Linked DNA regions of Homo sapiens. The protein of the gene in region 2 interacts with the protein of the main gene of each other region in a pairwise test. Each region holds a gene or a part of one and is shown on either strand. Other genes may lie near its edges.

Region 1 (7,026 bases), on a different chromosome or scaffold from region 2:
TTTTCTCTTATTTTCCTTTTTTTTTTTTTTTTTTTTTTTTTTGAGACAGGGTCTTGCTCTATCACCAAGGCTGGAGTGCAGTGGCATGACTATCGCTCACTGCAGCCTCGACCTCCTGGGCCCAAGGGATTCTCTCACCTCAGCCTTCAGAGTAGCTGGAATTACAGGCACTCACTACCATGTCCAGCTAATTTTTGTAGAGATGGGTTTCGCCATGTTGCCCAGGCTGCGAATTTCTCTTATTTTCTAAACCACTTTTGTCAGCCAAGAATTTGCAATAATTTAAAATCAATCAATATATCAAAATCAACATGCCCTTATGTACTTACCCTATCAAAGCCCATAGCACATAGGTTTTCTATTTTTTTGGTGTATTCTGGACTAGAAACTGGTGCTCCAGCATACACATGTGCCCAAAGTCGAGCTGTCTGTTTGAACATTTCGGGATTTTGTTTGTACTATATGGGGGGAAAAATTGATTGACATGACATTACAGTTATAATATTTGATATATTTCAGCTCTTAATCGCCTACAATCCTACTTTTCCAAATAAAACAAATCTACATTTAAAATGTGATTCACTTTGCATTATAGACAACCTATGTCACTCGAGAAAAGACCACTTAACCTGAAGCTTCGACTCACAATTTGTGTTGACAATAATAAAGACAAGTAACATTAATCTACTTTAATCTCCAAATTCAACAAATATAACTAGCAAGACTAAAATTAGGTTAAGTGAGGTATTAAGAGATGTTCCAAACACTGGAAAGCAGCAAACATTATACAACTGAACACAGATTACTAGCTTATAAAAATATGTGGACATTAGAATAATTTTTTACGATGTAACCAGCTTTTGTATTACCCACAGCCCAGGCTAGAATACAACTAGATTCTTCTGTTTTCTTACAGCTGCATTAGTGTACAGTGATTTATGGAAACCCCACATGCAAAGTCCTAACTTATTACATAACTTGAGATGATTATAAACTCACAATAGAGTAATTTTATTAAAAGACTTCCCATATGCATTGGAAAGAGGTAAATTTATCAAATACTTTGGAACCACCATTACTTAGTAAAGCAAAGTATAAATTACTAACTATTCAATTCACTTTAATATTTCTTTTAAAAGTAATTTATATATTTAAATCTATTACATATTAAAACGATAAATCTAGTTTCTACCACTTATTCATCACAAGGAAATAAGTCAAATTATTGAACTATTTTAGGAGCTAAAAGAAACCCTTGAGTCCAACCTCAACGTGTAAGGCTTAGAGCTCAATAGGAAAGCAAAGCTGGAACACAAGCCATGCTTATAACAACAAATATGAACAAATAGCACATATATAAAACATGGAAAACCCTAATTGGAAGTACTCTGAGACAAATAACAGAATATATTGACAAGGATATATACATATATACATAAACAGATCTTCAAGGGAAAAGAAGAAAGATAATATATAAATTAAAATCTTATAGGTTAAAGAAGTTTGCCAAGAGGAAGTTTCCTCAGGCAGAGGAAATATGGTAGATTGGATACAATATGTAAAAATGAATGCAATGCTTGAAAAAGCATGAGTTTGAAGAAAACAAGAATTTAGGAAATAAAGCAGAGTTCAGATCATGGAAAAACTCTGCAAACTAAAGAATCTGGACTCAAGTAGATGACAGTAGAGCTACGAACAAGTTTTTGTTAGTGAAGTAAGATTTGCACTTTATAAAGCTACCTGATAGCAATGTAGAAGATGGAGAAAGGAAGAAAGAGGTTGAGAAAAGGAGATCTATCAGAGCAGTTGAAAAGAAACAATTTTTTAAAAGTGACCTATGGCAATCAGAGTAATTATGTAAATATAGTGACAGAATGATACAGGGAATGGTTATCAACAGGAGCAAAGGAGACACAGAGAAAAACTCCAAAGGCTGTGACTTGGGTGGTTAACCATATGAATGTTCCTTGGATACCTGAATGTAACACTGCCAAAACTGAATGCAGTATCATAAATCCTACAAACCTATCATTCTATGATACCATCACCTACCAATTTAGTTAAACACCAGGCTCTCGTGCTTAGGAGAGAGGGCAAGCCTAAACATTTTATCAATGTACAGGTACTAACATCAGTACAGATATGATCATCCAAGTGTGAGTGTGTACAGAAAGTAAAGGTAACAAGGTCAGAACTGAGGAACTACATTTAAGAAAGACGAGTAAGAAGGGAAATAATTGTGGGAACTAACAAAGAACAGCTATGAAGTGAGGAAGAAAAGAGGGTAATATCTTAGAAGTCAAGAGAAGAAAAACTTTCTAAGTTTAAAAAAAAAAATGTCCATTATATTCCAATGGCTTAGAGTAGGTGTTGGCAAATTTGTTTTTTGAGACAGGGTCCCGTTCTGTCACCCAGGCTGGAGTGCAATGGTGTGATCTCAGCTCACTGCAACCTCTGCCACCCAGGTTCAAGCGATTCTCCCACTTCAGCCTCTCAGGTAGCTGGGACTACAGGTGTGTGCCACCACGCCAGGCTAGTTTTGTGTTTTTAGTACAGACAGGATTTCACCACGTTGGTCAGGCTGGTCTGGAACTCCTGACCTCAAGTGATCCACCACCCACCTCAGCCTCCCAGAGTGCTGGGATTACATGCATGAGCCAACACACCTGGCCAGCAAACTGTTTCTTAACAGGTCAGATACTAATAACTTAGGTCCAGTCTCCGTTGTAACTAATAAACTCAGCCACTGTAGCTAGAAAGCGAAATGAAAAATATTTATTCTGTTCAACAAATTACAAGGTCATTGGAAACTGTGCCATGTCACATAAGTCCCATGATAGGAGGTGATTAAAATTATTAGCAGGGAGGGATCATCACTGAAAGGAAGGATAAAAAGATGGACACATACACGAGCATTAATCATAGAATCTAGATGGTAGGAATATGGGTGTTCACTATGTAATTCTTTTGACTTTATGTGTTTGAAAATACTCATGTTAGGAAAACAGCATCTATATCCAATTAAACTAGGATGTTAAAAGTCTATTTTCACTATTACACCTGACAAAATAATCCTACCACAAGAAAGAAAACCATTTCAAAATTTAGTTTCAATAGAGTATGCTCATGTGTTAATGTGCAAACCACTGAAGTGGCTAGAGACTCATACATAATATAAGAAAGTCTTTCAAAAGCGGCCATCTTACCTGATTTGCTACTACAGCATCCTGTGGATCATCTGGCTCTGCAGCTGCCAATAGTGCTTGCAATGACAATAATACCGTGCGGAGAGTCATTGCAGCTGCCCTAAAATGCAAAACATGAAAATATCCCAATTAAGAGGGCTCTGCAGGCAAAAGCAAAGTATTTTCTTAATAAAAATTAAAAAATTGTAGAGCTAAAAGTTACTTAGATCTTTATCTTAATTATATAGTTAAGTCATAGACATTTATAATTATGTATCTGCCTATCATATATTTTCTTCCTTACTTTACAATTTGCCTATTTCTTTTTTCTTTTTTTCCCCTGAGACGGAGTCTGGCTCTGTCGCCCAGGCTGGAGTGCAGTGGTATAGTCTCGGTTCACTGCAAGCTCCGCCTCCCGGGTTCACGCCATTCTCCTGCCTCAGCCTTCAGAGTAGCTGAGACTACAGGGGCCCGCCTTAACGCCCAGCTAATTTTTTGTATTTTTTTTTTTAGTAGAGACGGGGTTTCACAGTGTTAGCCAGGATGGTCTCGATCTCCTGACCTCGTAATCCGCCCGCCTTGGCCTCCCAATGTGCTGGGATTACAGGCATGAAAAACCACCTGCGCCCGGCCTTTTTTCTTTTTTTTAATGACAGTGTCTTGCTCTGCCGCTCAGGCTGGAGTGGGCAGTGGCACTATCTTGTCTCACTGCAACCTCCGCCTCCTGGGCTCAAGCGATTCTCCTGCCTCAGCCTCACGAGTAGCTGGGACTACAGGCACACACCACCACACCCAGCATTTTTTTTGTTTTTCCTTTTTTCGTAAAGACGGGGTTTTGCCATGTTGCCTAGGCTGGTATCGAACTTCTGAGCTCAGGTGATCCATCCACCTTGGCCTCCCAAAGGTTAGGGTTACAGGTGTGAGCTACTACACTCGGCCAGCTTTTCTATTTCTTAAGACAACTCGAATTCTGAACTGTCCTTGTTTTTCTTGTTGCCAAGATCCTTCTTGTTAGTTTAGTTTAGTTTAGTTTTGAGGCGGAGTCTCACTCTGTCGCCCAGGCTGGAGTGCAGTGGCGCGATCTCGGCTCCCTGCAAGCTCCGCCTCCCGGGTTCACGCTATTCTCCTGCCTCAGCCTCCCGAGTAGCTGGGACAACAGGCGCCCGCCACCACGCCCGGCTAATTTTTTGTATTTTTAGTAGAGACGGGGTTTCACTGTGTTAGCCAGGATGGTCTCGATCTCCTGACCTCGTGATCCGCCCGCCTCGGCCTCCCAAAGTGCTGGGATTACAGGCGTGAGCCACCGCGCCCAGCCACCTTCTTGTTAGTTTTATCCACTCACTTATTTTTCTATCCATTTCTCTAAACAAAGTTAAAGTGATAAATCATTAGTACTAATAGCATGTGAGGCTTTCTTTCAATGGCACTCTAAAAACAAGATACTATGAAACAAATATATTTTCTTTTTTCTTTTCTTTTATTTTCTTGAGATGGAGTCTCACTCTGCCGCCGAGGCTGGAGTGCAGTGGCGCGATCTCGGCTCACCGGAACCTCCACCTCCCTGGTTCAAGCAATTCTCCTGCCTCAGCCTCACAAGTAGCTGGGACTACAGGCACATGCCACCATGCCCGGCTAATTTTTTGTAGTTTTAGTAGAACAGGGTTTCACCGTGAGACACAGGATGGTCTTGATCTCCTGACCTTGTGATCCGCCCGCCTTGGCCTCCCAAAATGCTGGGATTACAGGCTTGAGCCACCGCGCCCGGCCATATTTTCAAGAAAATATGAAATCATTCCATAACATTCTGAAACAGGACAAGTTTTTTGGATTAAACTACATCACTTAATTTATGATTCTAAATGTATTTATAAGGAAAATATCTTTATAAAGCTAATATTTGTCTAAAAAATAGTATCTACCTGTCTAGCAATAATTCTTGGCATTTCTGTTAAAAAAAGTTGTCTCACTGGCTGGGCGCGGTGGCTCACACCTGTAATCCCAACACTTTGGGAGGCCAGGGCGGGCAATCATCTGAGGTCAGGAGTTCAAGACCAGCCTGGCCAACATGGTGAAACCTCATCTCTACAAAAAATGCAAAAATTAGCTGGGCGTGGTGGCATGTGCCTGTAATCCCAGCTGCTCAGGTGGCTGAGGAAGGAGAATCGCTTGAGCTCGGGAGGCGGAGGTTGCCGTGAGCCAAAATCATGCCATTGCACTCTAGCCTGGGCGACAGAGCGAGACTCCATCTCAAAAAAAAAAAAAAGTTGCTTTATCAATTAATAGAGGTATGTATAAATATGTGGACATATTAAAAATGTTACATGTAAAGAGAATGCCCATTTTTACCATGTAAATTAGATCATTCTTCTTTTTTTCTTTTTTTGAGATAGGGTCTCACGCTGCCTAGGCTAAAGTGCAGTGGTACAATCAAGGCTCACTGTAGCCTTGACCTCTTTGGCTCAGGTGATTCTCATACCTCAGCCTCCTGAGTAGCTGGGACTACAGGTGCACACCACCACGCCCAGCTAATTAAAAACAATTTTTTTTTTTTTTTTTTGGTAGAGACAGGGTTTCACCATGTTACCCAGGCTGGTCTTGAACTCCTGAGCTCAAGCAGTCCTCCCACCTCAGCCCCCGAAAGTGATGGGATTATAGGTGTGAGCCACGACAACTAGCCAATTACTCTAAACCAGCCTTTTTCAACTGGGTTCCTGATTTGAACCACAAAATAGAAAAAATTAGTGACTGTTTTCTCAATTTTCCCAAGTTTGGTACATAAATAGTACTTCCCTAGATGCCTACGATAAAAGTTAATTTAGGCTGGGTGCAGTGGCTGACGCCTGTAATCCCAGCATTTAGGAAGGCCGAGGCAGGCAGATCACTTGAGGCCAGGAGTTTGAGACCAGCCTGGGCAACATGGCGAAACACTGTCTGCCAAAAATACAAAAATTAGCCAGATGTGGTGGCACATGCTTGTAATCCCAGTTACTTGAGGGGCTGAGGCAGGAATCGCTCGAACCTGGGAGGCGAAGGTTATAGTGAGTCCAGATGGCGCCACCGCACTCCAGCCTGAGGGAGACAGCCAGACTGTCTCCTACACCTCCACCCCTAGCCAAAAAGTTAAGTTATTGCCAACAACCAACAATGGATGTCTTAAAGCAATGATCTCAGTGTTGTTCATCCAACCAGCAGCATCAGCATCCCTTGGGAAGTTTTCTCTATCCCAGAGCTACTGAATCAGAAACTCCAGGGTTTGAGTCCTAGCCGACGCCGTCGCCGCGCGCGCGAGGCCTGGAACACACCGCACGAGCCGCTCCCGCCCCTACCCCTTTACGCCCACGTGGAGCCGGCCCCGCCAGCGCGAGCGCGCCCTATACACCCTCCCGCCCTGCGCCTACATGCTGCCCTGGCTCTGCCCGTGTGTGGGGGGCGCTTCCGGCCCCGCGGGGGTGGGGAAAATAGGGGATTAAAAAAAAACAGCGCGCGGAACCGGGCCAGGGTTGCCCACCCCCGCCACAATGGCCTCTGGGGTGAAGTCCTGCGCTTCCAGCTGCCCGGCCACTAGGCCGCTACGCTACGGAACATGAACAAGCTCCGGGCAGAGGAGTGGTTCTGCGACGTGACCATTGTGGCCGACAGCCTCAAGTTTCGAGGCCACAAGGTCATCTTAGCCGCCTGCTCACCGTTCCTGCGGGACCAGTTCCTGCTTAACCCCAGCTCGGAGCTGCAGGTCTCCCTGATGCACAGTGCACGCATCGTGGCCGACCTGCTTCTCTCCTGCTACACGGGCACCCTGGAATTCGCTGTTAGGGACATCGTCAACTATCTTACAGCCACCTCC
Region 2 (7,026 bases):
CAATGGGGATTTCCTTGCTATTGTGTCTCACCACCCAGTTATTGTTGCAGCGGCAGAGCGCCCAGGAAGCAGAGTTCTTCCCAATCCATTCATGCTTCGGGGCTGATTTGTAAGCAAGACCAATGGCATACCTGCGGAAACAAAACAGCAACAACAAAAACAATGAGCCATGTTGCACATGCACGTTAAATCCGTTCTGTGGTCCTCAGGGGTTATAAAAACATGATCATTTGTTGTCCCTGTTCATTTTCTTTAAGTGAAAGCTTGGCAAGAACCCCAACATCTGTGTTCCTCATCTCCTTCCCTCCCAAACATGGAAAGTGGGTGGAAAGTAGTGGGTGGAAAGAAGCGTCGTATTTACCCACATTTCTGTTTTCAGCTCAAACACTACGGAGAATTTGAACTTTGAGTTTTGCTGCTTTTTTTCACTCTTATAAAAATCTACACAATGAATTCGCTAGACCAGTGCTGACCAAAAGAACTTTCTTCAATGACTGAAATGTTCTGCTCTCCTCGATATGGTAACCACAAGCCACATATGGCTACTGGGCACTTTAGCTGCGGCTGGTGAGACTGAGGAACTGAACTTTAAATTTATTTAATTTTCATTAAGTTAAATGATTTAAATAGCTGCCTGTGGCTCATAGCTACCATACTGGACAGCACAACCCTAGACTTCTCCTTTTGACCTTCTTATAATTTTTCATTTAACACCATGTCTGTCATTTTCTGATTCTGAATGCACTTTGCCAAGGGCAAGCACAGAAGATGATTCCCATTTGCAGGGATAAATCCTTTGTCATTACTCAGCCCCAATTTTCTCATGTATATTGAGAAATATACAGTGTTATTTTAAGGAGTAAAGGAGAGAATACATGTTAAGTCCCAGGCACAGGACCTGGCATGTAATATTCAGTAACTGCTATTTATTTTATTATTATTGCCTGATGGCACATATTAACAATAAGTACCAGAATCAGAATTTGAACTCAGGATGACTCAAAACCCACAAACACGAACTACATTCTACAATGCCATCCGTAACCAGAAATTGTGCAGTTCATCACTGCCAAGAGCCTTTCTGATTATACTGGAAAAAAAATTCTGAACGTGTTTGAGCAGACGGATCTTCTGGTTATTCTAAATGTTCTCTTGCTGCTCAAAAAAATCCAAAGAATGCTTTCTACAATGTTCTAAGCATCTTAATCTCTTTTTACCCCTCTGAGTCATGCCTCTGTAATATTCATCGTATTTCAGTTATTAAGATAAACAAAACCCATCACTCTTTATAAAGAGTAAATGACTCACAGTTGAACTTTTAATATGTTATAGCAGAAACCAGTCTAATTGGATATTAACATATGGTACCTTACCCAATGCAGAGAGAAAAATTTCATGGGTCTTTAATAAAATGACATTCTTTAAAAAAAATCACACTGGACTTAAAATACAATCACTTTAAGAGTGGTGTGTTTGTTTAAAAAGAAAATTAACACAACATGCCATCACTAAATCCAAAAGAAGGATGGAATTGATAATCTGCCAAGCCCAGTGTGCAGGCCTGTCTGTCATCAATGTTGCATCCTCTCTTCCCTCCCGTCCATCCTCTCCTGCTTATGAGGAGAATCCAAGTTGCATTTCCCAGAATCCCCTTTCCTGTAGGAGTCTGGGTCAGGCTCTGCTATTGTGATGCCTTTGCACAAGATCCAGAAGTGCTTAGAGGAGGGGAAACACGCTTTCCTGATGGCAGACAGTAGACGTGCGGTTGGTGGAAGCTTCTAGATGAGCGCCTGAGTACACCTGCCTTGTGCTGTGGGCAACTTTGCAGCAGCTACAGCTCATCATGACTCCATGAACTAGAGCAGCAGACTCCCTGACTTCATGCCCCAGCCCTTCCAGGGTCCTGTAAGCTTCTGGCTCCCTTCTGTGGCATGCATCGAGGGTCTCAAATGTCATCTGTTTATTTGATACACTGATATGGTTTGGCTGTGTCCCCACCCAAATCTCATCTTGAATTCCCACATGTTGTGGGAGGGACCCGGTGGAAGGAAATTGAATCATGGGGGCAGGTCCTTTCAGTGTTGTTCTCGTGATAGTGAATAAGTCTCATGAGATCTGATGGTTTTAAAACGGGGGAGTTTCCCTGCACAAGCTCTCTTTTTGCCTGCTGCCATCCATGTAAGACGGGACTTGTTCCTCCTTGCCTTCTGCCATGATTGTGGGCTTTCCCAGCCACATAGAACTGTAAGTAAGTAAGTCCATTATAAACCTCTTTTGCAAATTGCCTGGTCTTGGTTATGTCTTTACCAGCAGCATGAAAACAGACTAATACATACATTTTGGAAAGGTTTTCATTTTGCAATTGTCAGTATCTCCCACCCCCCAAAAATGTTCTGTATACCCCAGTGAATACTATTTCCGCTTTTCAGACAATTTGGAACCTGCATCACAAAATCACCACATCTGTATTGTTTCCTTCTTGTTGTGGCACAGCATTTTTATTTTTTATTACTTTGATGTTTATTTCCCATTTGAACCTTAACTGAACCCTATGAAATAGCTGTGGCAGGTATGGCTGACTACATGTAGCAAGTAGAAACAGAAGATTAAAATTGGGAGCAAAATCCAGAGTTGTATGCTGCCCCCACCCCTTCTGGTCTAATAATCTTTGCATGAACCCGTTATTACTCATTTAGTTAACACCATTTCATAAAACACCAAGTGCACATTAGCATTAGAGAGTAAGAAAATACTAAGTGTATAGTCCATTAAGCAAAGGAAAATACCATTATAGTATCATTAATCTGTGAAACTAGGTACATATTTCCATTGAGCTTGAAATGTGCAGGCAGAATGTAATGTTCCATTAAGTTACGCAGTGAGACACGGAGAATTCAAAGTATAAAAATTATGTCTCTCGGAGCAATGTTAACGTGCCCCATTGCACAGATCATAATGTACACATCAATTTAAAGTCAGGACTATATTTCATAAGCAAATATGTCATTAGCTGTTGCAAGTCAAGATGTCACAGGCATTTAATCGTAGGGGGTGCCCCTTCCTTGCTAATACCCCCCAAGGAAATGTAAAGTGACTTTCTACATGAAGATTTTTCTGAAATTGACACCGTCAGGTTTGTAAAGATTAATTGTGTAGCAATTAATTTTAGAATTTCTTTTCCCCCTCATGAGTTAGTTTTGACATCTGGAGGGTGTTTTCAAGGTAATGCTGATGTGTGTTTATATAACTGAAGTGGTCTGATGGAATTTTGCAAACTATTCATCAATGGCAATGAGATCATAATGATCAGGTTTCATTTATCATAATTAATTATTAATAGAGTAATAATCATTTAGACCCTGGATTCTATCCCAGATTAATACAGCACATTAATTAACTAGAAACATTTGCTTTTTTTGTACCTGCATCCATTGTGTTTTCCTTTGTGCTTTAATTTTGCCCCACTGCAGCTAAAAATTGCAAATGCCAATCTAGCCCAGAGCCTAGTGGGGTGAAGGATTTGTCCTCCATCCTCTGGCAGGATGTTGGAACAGAAAACTCTTCTAGGCAAAGAGAATTATGAGGATAGCAACAAAGGAAAACCTACTCGCTCAGCCAATATAGTATGTACCATTATTGGGAGAGATGGGAAGCTTACAATTCACTTCTTAGATTTTTGGCTAATTTCTACCTACAATATAAAGGACTCAGCCATGTCACATTATTTGCATAGGTTTGAATTGAAAGGTTTTTTTATATATAAATAAGTGTTTTATCATGCTTATATTGAAAGAAACACTGTTATACTCACCATCTTCAGGCTATGCAATTTTGAATGTTGATTTTATTTTTTAAAGCAAGGATTCAGCTATCACTCATTACGTACACTGTCATAAACCCTAGAGAGTAATTATAGCATTTCAAAAATATACCACCCTTTTGTGAATAGCAGCATACCATGGTGGTTAAGAGCGGGGAACAGCAAACTACTACCCAGGGGCCAACTCTGGCCCTCTGCCTGTTTTTATAAATGAAGTTTTATTGGAACGCAGCCATGTCCATTTGTGTAGGTGTTGTCTGTGGCTGCTTTCCCACTACAACAGAAGAGTCGAGTATTAGTGACAAAAATCATTTGGCATGCAAAACCAGAAATATTGAATCTCTGGCCCTTTACAGATAATGTTTGTGGACTGCTGGTTAAGAGCCTGACCCTTGACTGCAGACTTACTGACTCTGCCACCTGTGAGCTTTGTAACCCTGTGATCTTCAGCATATACCTCAGTCACCTCATCAGTAAAGTGGATAATATTAGCACCTACCTTTGTAGGGCTGTAAGGCTGAATAAATGAGTTGACATCTGTAAAATGCTTAGACCAGTGCCTGGCACATACTTGTACCATATGAGGGCTTGTTAAATAAAAATAAAATAGCTCCCTTTTTGATCAATAGCAAGCAGGCATTTGTGAGACAGACGGTCAAAGGGGTGCAGTTGTGGCTGTGGATTAGGCAAGGTTAACTTTGTGAGGTTAACTAATTCCAATGTAATTGTGTCCTGACCTTTGCCCTTATTCTTAGAGAACTCAGTGGGCTAAAGTCACTGGGCTGGATCTAACAGGCCTTTTGAAATTATTCCCAGCCTATGATCACTGCTTCACCCCCACCATTCAACCCTTAGCTATTTGCACTAATTGGTCCAGTCTAGAACCATAAAACATACAAGGCAACAGAAATTAGTTTTGTGTAATGATGAAGAGTGATGTTTAAAAGTAGGGAATGGCAAACTTTTTCTGGAAAGGACCAGAAAGTAAGTAAATATTTTTGGCTTCGTAGACCATATGATTCTCTCTTAACTACTCGATTCTGCTGTTGTGGCTGAAAGGCAGCCATGGACTATATGTAAAAAAATGGACCTGGCTGTATTCCCATAAAACTTTATTTACAAAACCAGGTAGCAGGCCAGGTTTGGCTCATGGGCTGTGGTTTGCCAACCCATGTTTCATGGCATGAAAGAGCAGTGTTAACATGGTATAGCTCATCCAATGATCAGAGCTCTATAATCTTGAACAGAGAACCCACAGGTGTGGGTATTAGTAATATATGGTTGTTGTTTGAATCTGCTGAGTTTGGGGGTGTTTGTTATGCAGTATTATCCTAGCAAGAGCTGACTAATACAACTTTTCTGCATTTTATTCTTTAAGATGCATTACAGTATGGGTTGACTCTCTAAGTACAGAATGAGATGTGCCTTTTTATAACTGCAGGACAATAGAAATAAGTTGCTTACCATGTGCTTCCACTTATGACCACTTCCCAATAATGCCGGCCACTATCAATAAACACATTTCCAGCTACTCCATAGCTCCCCTGGCTGGTGAAGCGTTCAGGTGTGTGACTCTTCTTGGATGATGACTCATCACGTTCTACTGTCAAGTTATCATGGGACACCTTCAGTTTTCGATGAGCAGATTTGGGATCCAGTTTAAATGGTTGGCCTGAAAACAAATTCACAAAACAGAAAAAGGAAGAGGAAGAGGATTGTTTATTTTATCATAACCAATAGCATATTTTCAAAATCAGGTTTAAAAGACAGGAACAAGCCAGCCCTCCCTGAGTCATGCCTCCTATCACAAAGTGGTATCTTATATTTTAATAGTAATTTAAACATTATAAGCAACTTTCAAAGACATTTGCTTGCAAAGTTTTCATAATATTCAAAAGACAATAGAGAGCAGCAACTCTGTGTATAGTACAGTACACAGTAAGAGTGAAAAAGAACATGTTCCTGTCTTCATAAGCTTTCAGTCTACCAGTTCTAAGATAGGGATCCAGTGGTGGCATGCCAACTATTCAACAACAGCATGGATAAGGCTTAGCCAGAAAACATAGGGTGAGCTAGCTTCACGGATTCCAGGTGTATACAAGCAGCACAGGTACATACTGGCTGGATAGCATCCTGAAAAGGAGGAATGAATGAAGACTCCATTTTCAACCACTGCAGTGTTCTATCCAGCATAAGATGCATTCATGCTCAATAGACTTCAGACCAGAAACCAAACAAATCAAGATCTTGGGTCTTAACATATAGAATATTCTAGAGGTTTATATTATTCTGAGATTATTAAAAATTAAAGCATTACTCTTAGGAATTTAGGATGAGAATACAATTTTCAGGCCACAAAATTAGGAAAAAATGTGATAGCAATGCCTGGGTTTTCTACTCATGAAATTATTTATATATAATAAGGCCTTCTCTATTTCATTACTCACATTTGTGTCTTAAAGATTTAAGTATTAAAAAAATCTTGGCAGAGTCACACCTGGACATTTTGTCATAGTTGTTACTTCTTCTTTGACAATTCAATATTGGTTTGGAGTACTGCCTGTCATTCAACACTGCATTGGGTACAAGGCGTTTAAAGGCAGGAAATGCATTGCAACCTGATACAAATGCCATGGTGTCCAAACTCCACAGTCACTGTTGCAGTTGGCAGGTTCCTTCTGCCCAGTATACAGCTCTCAATCACAGGAAAAGGTCTAGTAAATTCAACTGTGGCAATACACGATGCTGGGCGAGAAACTGACCCAGTGAGTATAGGACAGTGTGTGTTGTCACATGTGGGTAGGCCAAAGGATTTCCAGTTGCCTTTTGGATACAAACACAACACAACACCAGCACCTCTAAAATCCTTTCTTTTTAGGTCACGGACCAGCATACTTTTTCTGCAAAGGGCCTGACAGTAAATATTTTTGGCTATGCAGGCCAGGCCATGTGGTCTCTTTTGTGACTATTCAACTCTTCTGCTATAGTGAGGGGGCAGCCACGGACAGGACAATAGGTAAATGAATGGGTGTGGCTATATGCTAATAAAACTTTATTTACAAAATCAGGCAGCCAGATTTGGCCCTTGAGCTATAGTTAGCTGGCTTTTGTTTTAGAAATCTATTTCTGTACATATCAAAGAAAAGCTTAGGCTGGGCTGGTGGCTCATGCCTGTAATGCCTGCACTTTGAGAGGCCAAGGCAGCT
Region 3 (7,026 bases), on a different chromosome or scaffold from region 2:
AAACCCCATCTCTACTAAAAATACAGAAAAATTAGCGGGGCTTGGTGGCGGGCGCCTGTAGTCCCAGCTACTCGGGAGGCTGAGGCAGGAGAATGGCGTGAACCTGGGGGGCGGAGCTTGCAGTGAGCTGAGATGGCGCCACTGCGCTCCAACCTGGGTGATAGAGCGAGACTCTGCCTCAAAAAAAAAAAATAAAATAAAATAAAATATTACCATTATTTAATGTACTTTTTAAAAAAGCAAGATAATCTAATTAAAAGTAGTCCCTGTTATACATGAGGGGTTTTTATGGTTAACATCTTAAAAGTTACTTAGATTTTTTGATTTTTTTTTTTTTTTGAGACTGAGCTTGCTCTGTCACCCAGGCTGGAGTGCAGTGGCATGACATTGGCTCACTGCAACCTCCACCCTCCAGATTCAAGCAATTCTCCTGTCTCAGCCTCCTGAGTAGCTGAGATTACAGGCGCTTGCCACTACACCCAGCTAATGTTTGTATTTTTTTTTAGTGGAAACAGGGTTTCGTCATGTTGGCCAGGCTGGTCTTGAACTCCTAACCTCAGGTAATCTGCCATCCTCAGCCTCCCAAAGTGCTGGGATTACAGGCAAGAGCCAACGCACTTGGCCCACGTTAGTTTTTTTTTTTTTTTTTTTTTTGAGATATGGTCTCACTCTGTCACCTAGGCTGGAGTGCAGTGGTATGATCAAAGCTAACTGCAGCCTCAGCTTCCCCAGGCTCAAGTGATTCTCCCACCTCAGCCTCCTGAGTAGCTGGGACTATAGGCATGCACCACCATGCTTGGTAATTTATTTATTTTATTTATTTATTCATTTATTTATTTTTTGGAGATGGAGTCCCTCTCTGTCGCCCAGGCTGAAGTGCAATGGCGCGATCTCAGCTCACTGCACCCTCCACGTCCCAGATTCAAGCGATTCTCCTGCCTCAGCCTTCTGAGTAGCTGGGATTACAGGCGTCTGCCACCACAACTAGCTAATTTTTGTATTTTTAGTAGAGATGGCATTTCACCATGTTGGCCAGGCTGGTCTTGAACTCCTGACCTCAGGTAATCCACCTGCCTCGGCCTCCCAAAGTGCTGGGATTACAGGCCTGAGCCACCGCACCTGGCTGCCTGGCTAATTTTTGTATTCTTTATAGAGATGGGTTTTCGCCATGTTGCCCAGGCTGGTTTCAAACTCCTGGCCTCAAGGGATCTGCCCACCTCGGCCTCCCAAAGTGCTAAGATTATGGTATGAGCCATTGCACCCAGCCAAAAGTTAGTTTTTTTTTAAAGCCAAGCCATGCGCCTGTAGTCTTAGCTACTTGGAAGGTTGAGATGGGAGAATCACTTGAGCTCAGAAGTTAAAGGCTAGCCTAGACAACATAAAGAAACCCTTGTCTCCAAAAATAAAACAATGAAATAAATGTTAATTTTTTAAAAAATATTGAACATCGGCTGGGTATGCCTGTAATCCCAGCACTTTGGAAGTCTAAGATAGGAGGATCACTTGAGGCTAGGAGTTCAAGACCAGCCTAGGCAACATAGTAAGACGCCATCTCTGCAAAAAAAATGTAAGAAAACTAGCCGGGCACAGTGGTACGCACCTGTAGTCCCAGCTACTGGGGAGGCTGAGGCAGGAGGATCACTTAAGCCTGGGAGGTCAAGGCTGCATTGAGCCATGATAGCACCACTGCACTCCAACCTGGGTGACAGGGTGAGACTCTGTCTCAAAAAAAAAAAATGTATGTATATATGTCCTATGTCTTCCTTTATTTATACTACTATATATATGTATATGCACACGCATACACACACACACACACACTGAAAGAAAATGATGAGAATATAGTTAGGTTTTAGGAGAGCAAGAGGAGGTAGGGGACTGTCTGTGATATTTTTTCTCAATATAGTAAGAGAAGAAAGAATATTTATTATGGACCAAATATACGTCTGGGTCATCTATTTCTGATCTAGTTAGTCTACTGGAGAAGAGGATGCTGTATCTGAAGCAAGATAAGTTAATGAAAAGAAAATTAGTTTTAATGTATTTCATAGTAAGTATTTTAGAAGAAAATATAATAAATGAAGGAAAGCATAAGTGGACTCATCATCTTAGTTGCAGAACATTTCTAGAAATGACATCTAAGATTAGGCCACTAAAGGAAGCATTCTTTTCACTTTGTATTTCAGTCTCTCTGGGGTCATTGGTGGAAAATGGCAAAGCAGTCTGTGAAGCAGAAAGTGCGTGTATTTGTTGAGCAGTGTCTTGTGGGTAGAACACTGAAATGCTGAGGGGTGAAAAGGAAAACTGGCTTTCAGGGAGAGAGGGAAAAATGGACTGCTCGTCACTCTTTTCTGATCTTCTTAATGAATGACCCCTCTCCTCTACTTGTTATTTGATAATGACTACTCAAAATTTCATTGTTCCCTTCTTTTTAGCTAGAATGGGTACTAGGAAAAAAGTTCATGCATTTGTCCGTGTCAAACCCACCGATGACTTTGCTCATGAAATGATCAGATACGGAGATGACAAAAGAGTAAGTGCGATGTGTTTGCCTTCAACTGACTGGGCCTCTCTGTCCCACCTTGCTATAGTGTGACCGTATTTCCAAGCAACCTTTGAAGGACCAAGACAGAATTGGACAGGATCCAATGGACTCTAGAGCCCATCAAATCCAAACCACCCCCTCACACACTGCTAATGAAGAAATTAATAAAATCCCATCGTTAATTGTCTTTTAATAATTTTACCTTTAATAAATTAATAAGTTTACCTTTACCCTCGTATCTGACACAGAAGAATTGACATTTGTTCACATTCATAAAGCTTTCTAATGATTGATCTGTCATTGTATAATCGCCCATGGGGTGCAGTAAGAATATCTTGAGTTCATTACTGTTTAGCTTATCAAAACAGCTGGAGAAATACTTATCAAGAGAAGTGGAAAGATATATCCGTCCCTATATCCTCACCCTGAGAATGCTTCTGAAGGCTTAGGACAGTGTAAGAGTGTTAGATATTTTCATTCAGCAAACAATTATGGGCCTACTCTGGGCAGCATTGAGACATTCTTCAAAGGAAAAATTCAAGGGCAAACTGCCCAAGCCTCGCAGGTCCTAGCGGTCAGAAAAGAGCTCACATGCAGCCCTATCAAATGTGTCCTGCTGGACATGGTTTTCAGCGAACACAGAAGCACAGAGCATTTAATGTGTGAGTGGACCAAGTCTTTCTTTCTTTCTTTTCTTTTTTTTTTTTTTTTTTTGAGACAGAGTCCCACTCTGTTGCCCAGGCTGGAGTACAGTGGCACAATCTTGGCTCACTGCAACCTCCGCCTCCCAGGTTCAAGCGATCGTCCTGCCTCAGCCCTGCTAGTAGCTGGGATTACAGGCACGTGCCACCATGCCTGGCTAATTTTTGTATTTTTAGTAGAGACGGGGTTTTGCCATGTTGGCCAGGCTGGTCTGGAACTCCTGACCTCAGGTGATCTACCTGCCACGGCCTCCCAAAGTGCTGGGATTACAGGCGTGAGCCACCATGCCCGGCCAAGTCTGTCTTTCTTCATCTTAATTTTTCTCTCTGTAGCCAGGTATAGCTCCTGCATTAGGGCAGTCAGTGTAAGATTTCAGCAAGAGTCTTTACATCAGAAGTTCTCATCAAGAAGATTGGAATCTACCACTGACCTTACCCAGTATGTCCCTAAGCCAGCTGCTACTACAATGGCTTACTATGAAGGGGCATGCATCTAAAAATCTGCTGATGACACCCTCAATTTACTCTTAATTCCTATGTCTGAGAAGTCCATAGCCTTCTCTGTGGCTTTCATTTCATCATCACTCACTTTGGCTCATAGCGTGTGTGTGGAAGTAGATGTTCACCATAATGCAGAGCTGAGGGAGGCCTCACTGCCAGCAACCAGAGCAATGAGGCTGGAGCCCAGGCCTCTGTTACCAGGCTCACTATTCCCTCTGGCATAATTCAAGGCCTCCCTATGCTTATGGAATCTATCTAAAACTTGTTTAATAAGAACATGATAAATTTGACCTCATATCATAGGTGGGGAAACAAAGACAGCACCGTGTGAACTAGGGTTAGAGGTGCTAAAACTAGAAAGTGCTCCACTCTCCTGATCTTTCCATCTCCCTGCAGGAACTCTCTTCTCCCATCCCAAAGAATTCATCTGGAATATCAGCCCCTACGTGGGAGTCCCCATTCATCCTACAGTTCATTTCCTCTGTTCCCTCCAGATTAGGCCTCAGCTATCAGTGATTTTTTTTATACCCATTTTTGAACAAATAACATTTTTTTCTTTCTCACTCTTTTTTCCTAGAGCATTGATATTCACTTAAAAAAAGACATTCGGAGAGGAGTTGTCAATAACCAACAGACAGACTGGTCGTTTAAGTTGGATGGAGTTCTTCACGATGCCTCCCAGGACTTGGTTTATGAGACAGTTGCAAAGGATGTGGTTTCTCAGGCCCTCGATGGCTATAATGGTAACTTAATTAATTAAATGTTGTCTTATGTAAGAACCTGAGGAGTAAGAGATGCAAATATTTTATGGTGAATAAAATAAAAGCTCACTCACTATCATTTGTATGTTTGTCTGTCTCCATGTTCTTACGTTGCAAAACTTACTGTTTGCTTGTTGACATTGTGGGCATGGCTTGATCCAATGTCCTGGGATTCTACCTTCATAGGAAAATTAAAAGACTATGGCTCTCTATAGGTCACAGGGGTTCAATTATCCTGTTTCAAATCTCTCAAGTATTAGTTTTGAAGATACGTCTTTATGACAAATTTGATGGAGTCCAAACATTTGTCTCTCAGCTTCCTGCTAGGAGCTATTTTCATGTATTCTACCAACACAATCAATGTACAGTTGATATTCTAGTATAGGATTGTATAAAAGAATATGTCACAGTTTGTAGACTTTGCCATCTGGTGGCTGCTGACTAGGATGTTCCCTGTTTTGCAAGTTTAGGTTTTATATTTAAAAGTGCATTGAGTGTAGATGCTGTAATTTATCCTGAATGTGATACGTAGGTGTGGTCCCCACTGACTTAAGGAGGTTCTCTTTTGGTTTTCATGATGCTCTGATTGTGACCTTGAGGAGGTGAAGACAGAGGAACTAAGGCCCAGGGAGATGAATAGTCTTGAGCACTGGTGCTGTGGAACCACAAATGGGCTCTGATTTGCAGCTGAAGTGACTCCTTCCTGTTCATTTGTGTTGGGTTAATAGACACCATTTCTGGCTCCAACTCAGATGCTGAATCAGGATCGCTTGTGTAAAACCTGCCACCAGTCCCAAGAACTAGAGTGTCTGTGTGACAAAGGCAAAAAATTTTCACAGCCCAGCATTGCCTGGGCAGATCTGCCATGTAAATGCCCATGGGCAGCCTGTGGGATGGGGTCTGGCTCAGGCTGCCCATGCTAAGGGGAAGAACAGATAGGAGCCGGAGCTCAGGGTGACTGCATGGTTTGTGTCCCGGAGCCTGGTGGTGATGGTAGACCTAAAGGATGTTGAGAAGTGCAATGAAAGTCTTCCCAGGGTGGGCAGTGGACCAGATCAGGGCCTGATCATGGTGGTACATTTCTGGAAGTGACATGGAACCAACTAGGAGCCCTGTTTCATCCTGCAGGAATTTGTAGTCTACAAAGAATTCTCACCCTTGACAGAAAATGCCCTTTCCACTCCATCTCTTCCTGGAGATTTTGAAAGCCCCTCTTTGCCTCTGTGGGGAAGTTGATGCCTCCTGCCAACCCTGAGACCCTGGCAGTTCATAGCTGTGCTAGAGAAGGGCTGGAGTCTAATGCTCCTATCTCCCTCCTCATCTTTTTAGGAAAAGTTCCAGTTCCTCTGTACCCTGAGATTCCCTGTCCTTCTCAGAAGCCCTAGGGCCGGATCATCTCTTGGTGGAGGGAACAGCAGAGCATTGTGGGGACCACAGATTCAGGGCAGATGTCCTTGTTTTGACCACTTTTGTCCCTGTTCCCCTGCCCACCCATCCTCTTCCATGGTGGAATTCCTGATGTTCTTGGCTGCCCCCACTGGCCATCTTCATGCAAAGGGCCCTGGCTGGCACCAGGCATGCTGGGAGAGGGGAGAGTTATCCTTGGAGCTATTTTCCTGGATGTCACCGTGTTTTGAAATGTTTGCAGGCACCATCATGTGTTATGGGCAGACGGGAGCTGGCAAGACATACACCATGATGGGGGCAACTGAGAATTACAAGCACCGGGGGATCCTCCCTCGTGCCCTGCAGCAGGTAGAGAGTGGGCCCAAGGGTGGGATGCCACACAGGTTCCCTCTCTCTGCCATAGATGTTACTGACCCTGGGCCAGCTACTAGAGACAGTGGGGACCAGGCCTCAAAGGAGTTGCAGTGGATACTGGTACTGGAGACAACATACACAGGGCTCTGGAGTCAGTAGAGTCAGGGGCCTCAGGAAACCAGGAGGTTGGGTGTCAGACTCTGAGCCATACCCACACTGAGCCTGTTTCCTCATTTGGGAAGGAGGGAGTCAGGCATGCTAATCAGCCTCTTGCTGCTCCAGTGGTCTGTGATCCTGTAATTAAGGATTTGGAGGTCCTAATCATTCTCTTTCCTGGTTTTAATGAGGGGCATATAGACCCTTGCAGAACTTCCTTACTGGCCTACTCTGGCTTTTTTCACCACCACAGCCCCTGAAAGATCAAAAGCAAGAAGGAGGGCATGACTTGAGCTTTCAGGACTGTGTCAGCCCGGGGGGTCTCAATAGCATAACTGAAGATAAGACAGAAGGGCCTTCCTTTGGGCCCCACTAGCCTGGGTTCTGTAAGGACCCTCTGGTCGGAGGTAGGAGGCAAAAGCTGCCAAGAGGCAGCTTTACAGCCCTGTCCTATAAGAAGTGTTATAGGACAGGATTTTTTGCAGCCCTGTCCTATAAGAAGTGTATACATTCCTCTAGTATGTGAACCATCCATGCTCCTGTTTTTGGAGCAATACCCTTAATATCCCACTGTCAAAGCTTCAGTATCTCAGCATCTTAG
Region 4 (7,278 bases), on a different chromosome or scaffold from region 2:
GCTGGGCGTGGTGGCGGGTGCCTGTAACCCCAGCTACTCGGGAGGCTGAGGTAAGAGAATCACTTGAACCCACGAGGCGGAGGTTGCAGTGAGCTGAGATCGTGCCATTGCACTCCAGCCTGGGCAACAAGAGCGAAACTCCGTCTCAAAAAAAAAAAGAAAGAAAAACACAGATTAGTATAACACTGTATTTATGGTATATACACTACTCATATCTTAAGTAGAAAGAGGAAAAGATGACCAATTAAATATAATAACTACAACAATTTTTCAAGAGGTAGACAGTACAATAAGAAAGAAATAGAAATGGCCGGGCACAGTGGCTCATGTAATCCCAGCACTTTGGGAGGCTGAGGTGGGTGGATCACCTGAGGTCAGGAGTTCGAGACTAGCCTGACCAACATGGAGAAACCCCGTCTCTACTAAAAATACAAAATTAGCCAGGCGTGATGGTGCCTGCCTGTAATCCCAGCTACTCAGGAGGCTGAGGCAGGAGAATCACTTGAGCCTGGGAGGCGGAGGTTGCGGTGAGCTGAGATGGCACCATTGCACTCCAGCCTGGGCAACAAGAGTGAAACTCCATCTTAAGGAAGGAAGGAAGGAAAGAAAGGGAGAGAGAAAGAAAGAAGGAAAGAAATAGAAACAACAAAAAGTTAGTAAGCGGAAAGACGAAGTTAAAGTATACAGTTTGTATTAGTTGTTTTTTTTTTTTTTTTTTTTTTTTTTGAGACAATGTCTCACTCTGTCACCCAGATTGGAGTCCAGTGGCACAATCACAGCTCACTGCAGCCTCAACCTCCTGGGCTCAGGTGATCTTGCTACCTCAGCCTCCCAAGTAGCTAGGACTACAGCAGTGTGCTACCATGCCCGGCTAATTTTGGTACTTTTTGTAGAGATGGGGTTTGGCTGTGTTACCCAGGCTGGTCTCGAACTCCTAGGCTCAAGCAGTCCGCGAACCTCAGCCTCCCAAAGTGCTGATATTACAGGAGTGGGACACCACGCCTGGCCTTCATTAGTTTTCATTTTGCTTGTTTGTTTATGTAATCAGTGTTAACTTGTCATCAGTTTAAAATAACAGGTTATAAGATATTATTTACAAACCTTGTAGTAACCTCAAATCTAAAAACATACAATGGATACATAACAGTTATGTGACCCAAAATGTCAGTAGTGATGAGGTTGAGAAACTGAAGCTCTCCAAACCCAGTCCACAAGTGGGGAGGGGTCCTTTAACACTGTGGACCATTTGAACTTTCTCTGCCTTACCCCCACCCCCAACATATAATATAAACACATCCCATGCCCCCCTCCTATCCCTCAGCCTATGTTCTATTTCTGTTCAACCAATAAGCTGCTTCTGGTGCCTTCCACCCAGGGTCAATGGCCCTTCATTTATCTTTACCCCAAACTAGAAGCATCTGCACTTGTAAGAGTTTCTCTATCATCTGTGACTCTTTGGCAAGAACAAAGCCCAGGGCTGACCGGAGAAGATCTGGAATAGACATTTTCCAGGTCTTGGAAAGATAAAGACACTTGAACTTTATCTGTTTAGGATGAGTTCTGCCAGAACTTTCCCAAAGCCTGAGGAAGTTGAAACCCAACCTAAAACACACAGTTCTTTCCTACTGCCTACTAGGAAATCACCTGACTCAGAGGAACAGAAAATGAAAGTAGAAAGGCCATTAAGAGAGCCTGCAGGCTGGAGGCCTGTGGACCTGGTTTCATATTCCAGTCCCATTGCTCCTTACTGAAAGACTCTGGACAAGCAAGTTATTTCCTCTGTGCCTCAATTTCCTCATTTGTAAAATGCGGGTATATATTACTTATCTCACAGAACTGCTGTGCGAATTAGATGAAATAACCATGTAAACCGTTTGGCATGTAATGGTTCCAATGCAATAAATTCTGGCTCCCATCTCTCTTCCACTTGGCTGGAAAGACCCTCTGCCTCATTTTGCTGCCAACCTCCAGATTTAGTATCTAGGCCAAGCCTGCTCTGGGCATCCCAGTCTGAGGCCATTTTCTTCTCAGAGGCTGAGGGTAGCAGGCACCCTCTTCCTAGAGCCTGCCCCTCCACCCTGCAGACTGGAAGGGGCACTTCTGAAAGACTTGGGGTGCCAGACTCACTTCACCAGGATCACCTTCCTCCCTAATCCATCTCCAAACACCCTGGGTTTTCCCACCTTCTGGAGGAAACTGCCCCCTCCCCATCCTTCCAGATCTTATTTCAAATTGTGTCCCTGATAGGAACAAAATTCAACAAGGGCCGGATTTGTGTTCATCTCTGCCCGCCCCCCCCCCCCTCCTAGAACAGGGCCAGCACATGTAGGCATTCAACACTTGTAGAACTCACGAACGCAAGCCACCTACTCCAGGAGGCCTTCCAGGTCCACCTCCGCATCTTTTCCTCCAGAGAATACTCAGGGAACTTTGTCCCAAATTCTAATCAGCATTCCGTGTTTCTCAGGACTCTAGTAATACAGGCATCAAATTATGGGATGGGCTATGGGCTTATTCCAAGGCAAGGACTTCATCCTGGTCATCTGTGTTCATAACCCACCACCAGCAGTAGCAGAATGCCTGGCACCAAGATGCCAAGGACTTTTCCTGCACTGGAGATGCACCCAGTTGTTATCACAAGTTTCAGGCAGGAAAAGCGAAATTGAAACCAGTTTTGGGGGAGCCGGCTCATCTTCACCACGCGAACGGCTCAAGCAGAGGCCTCCAAACCCCCAAAACCCCAGCTCTGGCCACTCTTGCAGGCCAGTCCTCCTCTGAGTAGAGGGCGGGGAGGACAGGGATTCAGCCAGCCCTGGTGCCCAGACAAATAAATAAATGTGCTCGGAGAGCCGCGGAGGGGATGGAGGGAGGAGGGAATGCGGGAGGCGAGGGGAGCCAAGAGAAAGGGGTCATCCTATACGCGGTTACCTTCACCACTCGCATGCTCGCCATCATGTCGGGACCGAGTGTGTGGCACCCGTGGCCTCCAGCAGGACCGAGCTCCGACCCGCGACACAGCGCGCCCCGCCCCGCCCCGGGGACCCCACCCCCGGCAGCCCCGCCCACCCCTCCTCCAGCCGTCGCTGCGTGGGCCTCCCCGCACCCGCTCCGGCGAGGCCAGGAGGCCGTCGAAGGACGACCCGCCGGACAACCGCCCGATCCCCGCGCGGAAGGCTCGGACCCGGGACTCACGGTCTTTGTGCGGAGACGGGGGCGGGCCTCGGGGCGCACGGCTTTGCTGATCCCTGCCTCCCGCGGGGTGCGCCGTGCACCGGCGGCGAGCGCTCAGGGGCGCTGGGGGGCGCTCATACGGGTTCCAGTCTTCGCTCCGCCGGCGGCCGCACCGGGAGCTCTCCGGTCTTTGTCAGCCCCCTGCACGCCGCCCCAAATACACACTCGCCCTGAATAAATAAGGGATGCTCGCTGTACAGACGCAGCTCCGTGACAGTTCTCAGCGGCCTCCACTATCGGACTGCCGCCTTGAGCCCCTGCCCCAGCAAGCTGCCGGAGCCGCCGAGCCTGCCGCCTTCCCTCCATGGGCCCAGCGCTCCATCTCCGAAACTGCGTGGGGGATGGCGTAGACCTGTGCCCTCCGAGCACCGCTCCCCGGCAGTCGGGGATCCTTTGTGCTGCCCGGCGTTCGGCGCGGGCTGCAACGTTTCTCCCCGTGGCTTGGGGCAGAGCACCGCAAGGAGGCGCTGTTGGACCCTTTCTCTTTTGCTTTGGGGGTTCGGTCTACCATCATTCAGTCCTTTACTAGGTTTAGTATTTACTAAGTGCCTACTGTATGCTGGTTTGGGAAACAGTTGGTGGGGGAAGCCCCAAGAAGGACTCAGGAGCCTCCTTTCCAAGAGAGAGTCTGCTTCCCCTCCCTTACTTTACTACTGGTCCATTACAAGCTGTGGGCCTAATGTGTGCCCCCATGCACAGCTGGAGTCCCCAACCCTCTGTGCAAGGACAGAGTACTTGCAGCCCCTGAGCACCAAGCAGCATCTGGGGAAGATGAGACTTGTTGGGAGGGCCGATCCCCTCCTTCTCACCCTTCCCTACCCCCGTTTAGTCCAGACGAGAAAGGAAATCAGTATATTTTGAGCACCAGTTTGTGATCTCAGTACCTCACAGTTTTTTTGTTTCTTGTTTTTCTGACAGAGTTTCACTGTCGCCCTGACTGGAGTTCAGTGGCGATATCGGCTCACTGCAACCTCCGCCTCCCGGTTCAAGCTGTTCTCGTGCCTCAGCCTCCTGAGTAGCTGAGATTTACAGGCGCGCGCCACCACGACCGGCTCATTTTTGTATTTTTAGTAGAGTCAGGGTCTCGAGCTCCTGGTTTCAAGTAATCCACCCGCCTCGGCCTCCCAAAGTGTTGGAATTACAGGCGTGAGCCACCGTAATGTTTTTATCCAAGTATTTTGAAACCAAATGACTTCTCTGCTCAGATTTTGCAGAACGATTAATTGTTTCATTCAATTCAATGAACTTTAACAGCATTTTCTATATGCCCGAAATGAATAGGACACTCCGTAATCCCTTAACAGGGGTAGAGATGAGGGAACAAAGACATTCGAACCTGCCTGTGATCAATAGTCTCAGTCAACAAGCGCCTACTACTGAGTGGCAGGCATTGCCAATAGGAAACACCAGGATGAGAAAGGGGAGTCCCTGCTCCTGAGGAGTTAGTTCCCAGACTACTGGGACAGAGGGAGAGAATGCAGCCCCTGATTTTTAATGATAATGCTATAGAGAATCACCTGGTACTCTGGGAGTATGAGGAGGGTCACTTTATCCCTCTTCAGGGAGGGGCAGAGGTTTCCCGGAAGAGAGAAAAATCCAAGTGTATTGTGAAACATGATGAGTCAGCGAGAAGTAAGAGCGTGGGATGAAGATGTTCTAACAAGAGGGAACAGCATGAGCAAACGGGGCAGTGTCTATGGAAACTGGAGCAAAAGCCTCTGTCCACGTATCGTAGCTCTCCTTTTCTTTTCTTACAGGAACGCTGCATCCCGAGGTGAATTAACAGTCATGGATATAGCTGGGTCCTAAGTCCCCACACAGTGGGGCAGCCCACTGGTGTGCCTTTCATGTCCTTTCACAATGCAGACCTTTGTGTGTCAGAACAAGCCCCAGGGAGACCTGGGTTCTAGTTCCACATCTGCCCCCATGTGCAGTTATGGCCTTGGGTGGTCGGCGGAAACTCCTATCTGCTTGCCAGGACCATTGTGAGGCTAAGCTGAGGGAAGTGGAGGAACTTAGAATATTGTAAGTCGCCGGGCGCAGTGGCTCACGCGTGTAATCCCAGCACTTTGGGAGGCCGAGGCAGGCGGATCACCTGAGATCAGGAGTTCGAGACCAGCCTGACCAATATGGTGAAACCTCGTCTCTACTAAAAATACAAAAATTAGCCGGGCATGGTGGTGGGTGCCTGTAATCTCAGCTAGTCAGGAGGCTGAGGCAGGAGAATCGCTTGAACCCAGGAGGCAGAGGTTGCAGTGAGCCAAGATCACGCCATTGCACTCCAGCCTGGGGGACAGAGCAAGACTCCGCTCAAAGAAAAAAAGAAAAGAAAATTCTAAGTCCGAGGCCTGGCATGGTGGCTCATGCCTATAATCCCAGCACTCTGGGAGGCCAAGGCAGGCGGATTACCTGAGGTCAGGAGTTCGAGACCAGCCTGGCTAACATGGCGATACCTCGTCTCTACTAAAAACACAAAAATTAGCCAGGTGTAATGGCGTGCGCCTGTAATCCCAGCTACTGGGGAGGCTGAGGCAGGAGAATCACTTGAACCTGGGAGGCAGAGGTTGCAGTGAGCCGAGACCGGGCCATTGCACTCCAGCCTGGGCGACAAGAGCGAAACTCTGTCTCAAAAAGCAAAACAAGAAAATTGTAATTCCAGGATATAAACAATCAGGTTTGAATCCCAGCTCCACTATTTTTGGCTAAATAACCTTGGGCACATTACTTAACCTGTCTGTGCCTCCATTTCCTCATCTGTTAAATGGAGCTCATAACAGTGGATGTGAGAAACAATGAGTTGATATTTGCAAAGAACTTAACTTTGAATGGTGGACAATAAGTGACAGTTATGATAATGATAACATAATAAATATTAAAATGATGTCAGGTGCCTGCCTCAGAGTGAATGTACCAGGCTGTAGGAACAGATGCCTGAGCTTGCTCCCTTAGAACAACAGCAACACTATTTTCTCCAGTAGGAGACCCTGTTTTACTTCTCCCTGATCTGGTCACTGGCATTTATTCATCCATCTACAAAATTTATTGAGCACCTACTTATACAAGGCCCTGTATGGGGTACTCGATGGGATTCAGGCATTGATTGGTTAGGCTGGCTCGTCTTCACCATTGAGAGGAAGAGACACACATCTGTGTGATGACAAAAGGTGGTAGGAGAAAGGCCTCTTAAGTGACGTGCACATATGAGGTATGTCTCTTCCAAGACTGAGCTCTGCCAGCTGTAAGGCTTGCCAGTCTCTTATGAGGATAAAATGAGATGGTGTATGTGAGCAGACACCTTGTAGGTGTGAAAGTACGTTATCTATTTATAATGCCTCTAGAGTTCTGGGCAAGAGGTTCAGATTTTTCAAATGTCTCCAAGAACCTTCAGTGCATCTTCAAAGGAAGAACTTGGATCAGGAAGGATCAGTTGATTTCTTTCCATGCCCATTCCTTGGGCTTGTTCCTATTTGGAGTAGGGACGGTTAATCTCAGAACTACCCCAGCTCTCCCCATCTTCCTAGAGCTTAAAGAAGTTCCTGGGCCAGGTGCGGTGGCTCGTGCCTATAATCCCAGCACTTTGGGAGGCCAAGGCAGGCAGATCATCTGAGGTGGGGAGTTCGAGACCAGCCTGACCAATATGGAGAAACCCCTGTCTCTACTAAAAATACAAAATTAGCCAGGTGTGGTGGTGCATGCATGTGATCCCAGCTACTCGGGAGGCTGAGGCAGGAGAATCACTTGAACCTGGGAGGTGGAGGTTGCAGTGAGCTGAGATCGAGCCATTGCACTCCAGCCTGGGCAACAAGAGCAGGCAAAAAAAAAGAAGAAGTTCCCAGGAACCAGAGACAGAAGAGAATTTCCTGCTTCTTTTGATCCTCGTGCTTACCCCACACCCCCCCTTCCTCTGGGTTAGTCTCACACACACACACACACACACACCCCTCCTGTACCATGAGCCCTGCCCTTGTGGTTGAGGTGGAGGGATGGATAGAGGCAATCAAGGAGTCAGGGAGTCCCAGGAGGGGAGCTGGGGGTATTCTTGCCACA

Evidence for each region.
Region 1: the proteins of MID1 (region 2) and UBE2K interact in binary tests that used the Homo sapiens proteins (3 or more experiments, as listed by UniProt).
Region 3: the proteins of MID1 (region 2) and KIF9 interact in binary tests that used the Homo sapiens proteins (3 or more experiments, as listed by UniProt).
Region 4: the proteins of MID1 (region 2) and UBE2L6 interact in binary tests that used the Homo sapiens proteins (3 or more experiments, as listed by UniProt).

What each region holds. Positions count from the first base shown.
Region 1 is NC_000004.12:39,771,114-39,778,139, reverse strand, and holds part of UBE2K (ubiquitin-conjugating enzyme E2 K), read right to left. Parts: exon of another isoform or gene 6,441-7,026; intron 3,307-6,440; coding exon 3,207-3,306; intron 459-3,206; coding exon 330-458; intron 1-329. UniProt on the Homo sapiens protein: Accepts ubiquitin from the E1 complex and catalyzes its covalent attachment to other proteins. In vitro, in the presence or in the absence of BRCA1-BARD1 E3 ubiquitin-protein ligase complex, catalyzes the synthesis of 'Lys-48'-linked polyubiquitin chains.
Region 2 is NC_000023.11:10,449,586-10,456,611, forward strand, and holds part of MID1 (E3 ubiquitin-protein ligase Midline-1), read right to left. Parts: intron 5,493-7,026; coding exon 5,285-5,492; intron 132-5,284; coding exon 1-131. UniProt on the Homo sapiens protein: Has E3 ubiquitin ligase activity towards IGBP1, promoting its monoubiquitination, which results in deprotection of the catalytic subunit of protein phosphatase PP2A, and its subsequent degradation by polyubiquitination.
Region 3 is NC_000003.12:47,272,789-47,279,814, reverse strand, and holds part of KIF9 (kinesin-like protein KIF9), read left to right. Parts: intron 1-2,435; coding exon of another isoform or gene 2,436-2,440; coding exon 2,441-2,533; intron 2,534-4,324; coding exon 4,325-4,490; coding exon of another isoform or gene 4,491-4,507; exon of another isoform or gene 4,508-4,587; intron 4,588-6,156; coding exon 6,157-6,263; intron 6,264-7,026. UniProt on the Homo sapiens protein: Essential for normal male fertility and for progressive motility of spermatozoa.
Region 4 is NC_000011.10:57,564,657-57,571,934, forward strand, and holds the start of UBE2L6 (ubiquitin/ISG15-conjugating enzyme E2 L6), read right to left. Parts: upstream 3,017-7,278; 5' UTR 2,956-3,016; coding exon 2,929-2,955; intron 1-2,928. UniProt on the Homo sapiens protein: Catalyzes the covalent attachment of ubiquitin or ISG15 to other proteins. Functions in the E6/E6-AP-induced ubiquitination of p53/TP53. Promotes ubiquitination and subsequent proteasomal degradation of FLT3.